Homo sapiens: one gene and its partner. The gene in region 2 interacts genetically with the main gene of each other region. Each region holds a gene or a part of one and is shown on either strand. Other genes may lie near its edges.

Region 1 (3,500 bases), on a different chromosome or scaffold from region 2:
CTGTTTTTCTAAACCAGCCACCTTAGTGCCCACAGATCATAGAATTCATACATTCTTTTCCCTGTGTGTAATGTAATACAGATGTACTTACAATACTTTAAAAGTGTTTCCAGCATTCAAGGATTAAATGCTTCACATCTTTTAAACATTATTTCTCTTTGAAATAAGCAGTGTTTTTTTCAAAGTTAGTAGCAATTATATAAAAAAGAAAAATGAGATTATATCAGATACCCAAGTAAAAGATTAACTTACAAAGTAAAATATAAAATGGTGATAACTAAATTTTTCTTGGGAGGAAATAAGACCTGGACTCTCAAACAGGAACTTTTCAAGTGGCATCCTACAAGCACTTGGCAATAACTTATCTTCTGTGCATTTTAGCTAAATCATAAGGCTTCTAATGAAAGGCATTTTTCAAATAAGGGAATGTTTTTTACTTGTTTCAGTTTTTGGTAAATAATTTTCAGTGCATATTTAATGTTTTAGGTATCTGATTTCTTTTTGTAATATTAAATCTTAATTGGGTTTCTCTAGATTTCCAAAGCTGAAACCAAGAAGCAACAAAAAGAGTTCTTCAAAGGCCACATGAGAATCAGAGCCTAAAATTATTGCTGATATAAAATATGTTCCTAGCAGAGGAATGTTCAGAGGTACATAAAAATTACTATGCAACAAGTTAAACATGCTTTGGATCCTAAAACTGTAATGATTACACTTATTTGGATCCTGAAACTGTAATGATTACACTTATTTGGATCCTGAAACTGTAATGATTACACTTACTTGGATCCTGAAACTGTAATGATTATACTTAAAAAAACTTGGTTCCTGTTTTACATGCTAAGCAGGCACTTAAAAAGCACTAAGGATGCAAAGATTTATAAGAGGCTTGTCAACTGATAAATTATTTTAAAAATATTTTATGCAATGAAAATCTGGTATGTTGTGTGGTTTTGATTAGAATCAGTGGATTTTATTTAGTGTTTAGCCTAAAATGTTGCAAACTTCTAATCAGCAATACGCTATTGAGTGTCAGTAAGCTTCTGGGCCACAGCTTTCCAACCTGTTAAATGAAGCGTTCAGATTTCACTAAATAATCTTTTAGCTGAAATTCTGAATTTCTTAGATTTTTCTACTACAAGTGGTTACTCTTAATCTACCATTAATATTTATCAGTAATTTAAAAGTAAATTTTGTAAACTGTTCATAAAGAAAGCCTATCAGACACATATGGGGTTAATATTTTATGGACTTGGAATTTAGTTAAATGAAGCAATAACTTTTACTGGTTGTTTGGGTTTGGAGTTTAACGCTGAGTTAAAGTTCCGGCTCCATCATTCACTGGTCTGTGATCCTGGACAAGTTACTTAAGTTATTTAATCCTCAGTTTCCATGCTTGAAAATGGGGATAATGACAGTATCACTTCAGAGAGTTACTGTGAGGGCTAAATGATAAAACACAGAAACTGCTCACTCATTTATTTAAGCCCTAAGCACATGTGTTTGTTTTATATTTTTATTTACCAAAAATAACAACACTTTCCTATAGAAACTCTAGTTCAGGACAAAGTCACTGGATTTCATTAGCAGTGAACATACTGCCTTTATGTGCATTTTGCATTTTAAATGTAGCCTTACAACTTTCTGTATGACCTTCAAATCATTATTTTATTGTCACATTTACTTCCAAGAAGATAAAGGTACTTTGAATGTTTCTGTTTCCACTATCTTGAAGCAAGTTTTAAGAGCCCAGCTTTGCACTGCCTAAAACACTTAGGTTTAGCTCCTTTGCAAGCCATTAAGCTACTGAATCCTAAGGGACAGCTTTATCTTTTTGAAATTTTCACAAACTCTGGTATTTCCATTAATATAATGTCTCTGCTACCATAAGACAAACTACTTAGGTTTGGAGGAATTAAGATACTAACATTTGTCTTTTCTCTTGCCCTCTGGGACCCTTCTTAGACATTTCCTCTTGTTATTTCACTTGCTCACCCTCACAGGTTCACTGGCTGACCCTGCTCTGGGCAGCCTCATGGGCGCATTATGAGGGCAGAACGGCTCAGTGGGCCAAACAGGTGTTACAGTGACATATATAAATAAAAGTTGTCATGATAATCAAGGGTGTGCTTTTAATCTTGACTCTGTCACTAACTTTCAAAGAAACAGGCCAAGCTCTTGAACTTCTTTCTCTGTACTTTATTAGCAAATTAGTGTGCTTTAAAAAAAAAAAAAAAACCTCCTCATAACCACAAAAGACAAGTTTTTAAAGAAACGAAATCACAAACCACTTTATGTCCCATCTGATCACTGACACTCCATGGATCATCGCCCCTTCCACCTGCTAAAAAATACCAAAACTAAGTTTGAATTTCTCCAAATTTAGCAATCTAGTAGCAGGCCCTAGGCCACAGTATTTTTCCACTAAAATAAGATCATTGAATTAGGTGATCACTAAGATCCCTTCAGCTCTAAATTTCTACAATTTTTGATACTTAACTATATTTTTTCACAGTTGTATTTATTTCTCAATCTAGGTTTCTAGATTAAAAGTTCAACTAAATTATTCCAAAAAAGTTTTAATTCTTCTTTTATTTAAACTTTAAAAGGTATTATTTAAAATTTCTCCAAATAATACTTCTGTGTAACAATTTTTGCAACTCCTAATGTTCAAGTCATATAGAAAAGGATTTTGCCATAGTTAATCTTTTTCTCACCCAATCTCTCTTAGTTTTCATATTTTAAAAATCACAGTAGTTAAGTTAGTGGTTTGATGCACTTTGTTTTGGGATTTTTATATATCCACATAAATGAGGACGATACCTGCTTGACATGGAGAGTAGATCATGAATTGTGTAGTACAGACATATGTCTTAATTCAGAAAGCTCACCAGTTCAGAACTGCATTTGGTAAATTATCCTATTCTAACCATGATATTTAAACTATGGATGTGGTTAAATAAAATGGCCAACTATATATTTTAAAACCTGTTTTAAAGAGGGGCTTACAAGGCTCTGACTTGTTCTAGATATTATTTCTTTGAAATCTTTTCTGATTTTCGCTGGTAAATTCAATTACTTTTAAATCCACAAGGCTTGAGTTCCAGTCTTATCACTGGTCCTTATGAGCTATAACTCCACAAGGAGACTCAGTTTTGCCCATCAATATAATGGTAGGAAAGATACCTACTCATGGGTTAGTTTGTAAGGACTATAACAGGTGAAAATGTTTCCAAAGTGTAACTTGCTAAGCTAGCATCAGTAATAAGATTTTATACTCCAAAAGTAATTTGGCACTCCTAGCAAGGAAATGACATACTTATCAGGAATTATATTTATGATTTATGACAGAGACAGAGACTAGTTAGTAGAAAAAGCATGAACTGAACTCTTGACAAACAGGTCTGAGTCCAAATCTTAGCCTTATAAACTGTACAAACTTAGTTTCTTTGGGTAAGTCAATTTTTCAGAGCCTACGATTCCTAATCAGGTAAAGTAGA
Region 2 (2,879 bases):
GTACAGTTTAAAAGTGATTCACGATTTGCAGGCTTTTTATCAGATCACAAAAAAATCAGTCTTTAAGCATTTGCTTGGTAAGGTTTCTTAAGATTAGGTTTATAATACAACCATCTGTAATGTATCTCTCGTTTGAGCTTGTGGGCCATACAATTCATTAACTAGATGAATACATTGTGGACAGCATCCTCACTACCCCTCTCTACTCACTCACAAAGAACCATGATACACTGGAATGTTTTTCTCTGGAATCCTCTTTCTACTCTTGTATTAAAATTTTTCCCCACTTCATGATTATATTCAAAATAAACAACTACATCATTACTTCTTGTCTTTTGCTTCTGTTGTACTATATTTGGAATGTAGATGTACTTGGGAAAGTCAGGCTAGATCAAAGTTACTATTCTTACAAGTTTTGAAAATTAGTGTTTTAGAAGAAACTCACTCATGTTTGTAACTTCTTTATCTGTTCAGTGTTGAAAGATGATGGACAGAAGGAATCCTTGCCATGTTTCACATTTAATAAGATTCTTTCACTTTAATGCATAAAACCCTTTGAAATCAATGTCAACCAGGAAAATTCATGTTAGAAAAAACTGGAATGAGAGCTGATATTCTATATTCAGAACATCTGAGAAAGCATTTTTGACTATTACAAAAGTTTATTTAACAAAAAGTCTAATATGAAAATGTACATGACCTAATTTTTACATCATAGTAAAACAGGCCCTATGGAGAGAGGACATGGGTTTCTCTGCTGAACAGCCATTATTTATACTCGTTCCAAGGCTTCTAACATGATGATACTATTTCCTCGTATTACCTAAGAAAGAGAAAAATAAATTTGAAAAGAACAACTCAGGTAACAGACATAACTATGATGATTTAAGAATTTTCACCAAATCATTAATGGTTTTTTAATATTACATGTCGGTTTGCAAAGCTTTGTTCAAGCCACAGGGACACCAAACAACTCTAAGCCCTTTATACGACAGACATCTTTTGGATTTAAGGCTAACAATTTGCTTTATGAGATTCTAATGCCAAGTCTCCAATGACTAATTTCACCTTTTTTTTTGAGACAGTCTCACTCTGTTGCCCAGGCTAGAGTGTAGTGGCGCAATCTCGGCTCACTGCAGCCTCTGCCACCCAGGTTCAAGCAATCCTGCTTCAGCCTCCCAAGTAGCTAGGATTACAGGAGCCCTGACCACGCCCAGCTAATTTTTATATTTTTGGTAGAGACGGGGTTTCACCATGTTGGCCAGGCTGGTGTCAAACTCCTGACCTCAAGTAATCTGCTTGCCTCAGCCTCACAAAGTGCTGGGATTACAGGCGTGAGCTACTACGCCTGGCCCTAATTTCACCTTCTAAAATGCAGGACTCAAATTTAAATGCCCATCCCTGACTCTATGGGATCCAAAAATTAATGAGTAAAATATGTACAGTAGAGTATGTTAGGTACAGTTTGGAGGTATGAGATCATTTAGGGAAGAAACCAGGATGGGAAATTGTGAAAGGCATGCTTTATGAAAATGACATTTTACCTGGGTCTTGGAAATTGGGCAGAATTTTGAAAAGGAGATTGTAGGAAATTCTAGACAGAACTAAGATGAAGACAAAGTATGAGAGGATAAGGAAGTAATCTAATTTGAATGCAGTAAAAAGTTCACGAAGAGAATCAGGAAACAAAGATAGTTGGCATTCAATCTTGGAAAGCTTCAAATGCCAATCTTAGTGTTTGGAGGACATCAGAAACTAACAATGAGCCAGTGAGAGTTTCACTTGGGGGAATGACAACCATAAGTGTCCCTGCAACAAGATATTATATAAATACGCCGAAGTTTGAATAGGACAGAACCTAGAGGCAGAAAGAGAAGTTATAAAAAAAAGGCCCTAGGAGAACAGTGCTTGACCTAGTAGATAAGCCATAAATGAAGATAAGAATATTTATCGGGGGTGTGGTGGCTCACGCCTATAATCCCAGCACTTTGGGAGGCCAAGGCGGGTGGATCACCTGAGGTTGGGAGTTCGAGACCATCCTGGCCAACATGGAGAAACCCCCATCTCTACTAAAAATAAAAAATTAGCCGGGTGTGGTGGCACATGCCTGTAATCCCAGCTACTCAGGAGGCTGAGGCAGGAGAAATCACTTGAACCCGGGAGGCGGAGGTTGCGGTAAGCCAAGATAGCGCCACTGCACTCCAGCCTGGGCAACGAGCGAAACTGTCTTTTGTCAAAAAAAAAAAAAAAAAAAAAAAAAAAACAACAAACCAAAACCAAAACAAACCAACAGACAAACTTATCAGAGTATAGATGAATCAGCTGGTAAATGAATTCAAGAGGGGTAGAAAAATAAGCGAAACTGGAAGGCTAGGGGACTAAAAACAGTAAGTCCCTAATAGACTGGAGATCATCATAATCGATAGATCACCCATCAGTCAAGTAGAATTGGATAGGTGAATGGAGGGGTACGGGAGGGAAAGAATAGGTAATGTAGGGGAGAGAAAGGTAATGTAATAATTTGAGGTGTTTATTAGAAATGGAGGCATTCCAAAAAGATTCAAAGTGGAGCTATGCTTATAGGCAGCTAGAGTAAAAGTAGTTGTAACTTATTCTTTTCTCACAGTATCATGCTTGTTTTATTTACACATACGCTATGATTTATTGTGTTCTCCATACAAATGTAAATTTTATGAGGGCAGGGACTTAGGTGCAAAACCCCAGTGCCTAAAATAGTAGCAGGCACACAGAGGGCTCAATAACCTGGTAAATATGAATAAAAGAACTCACATGTGATTACTGCAGCTGACAGAATAGAAGGGAACACAATTGGTAGGATAAGTGTCTTGGAACCTGGCAGCCAATTATCAGCAATGAGT

What was found. A genetic interaction does not mean that the proteins touch.
Region 1: changes in SNRPG (region 2) and ZNHIT6 together harm fitness less than expected from each alone (positive genetic interaction), as found in Homo sapiens cells (one large-scale study listed by BioGRID).

Annotation. Positions count from the first base shown.
Region 1 is NC_000001.11:85,659,934-85,663,433, forward strand, and holds part of ZNHIT6 (box C/D snoRNA protein 1), read right to left. Parts: intron 2,345-3,500; coding exon of another isoform or gene 2,326-2,344; exon of another isoform or gene 2,185-2,325; intron 1-2,184. UniProt on the Homo sapiens protein: Required for box C/D snoRNAs accumulation involved in snoRNA processing, snoRNA transport to the nucleolus and ribosome biogenesis.
Region 2 is NC_000002.12:70,280,862-70,283,740, forward strand, and holds the end of SNRPG (small nuclear ribonucleoprotein G), read right to left. Parts: intron 824-2,879; coding exon 773-823; 3' UTR 501-772; downstream 1-500. UniProt on the Homo sapiens protein: Plays a role in pre-mRNA splicing as a core component of the spliceosomal U1, U2, U4 and U5 small nuclear ribonucleoproteins (snRNPs), the building blocks of the spliceosome.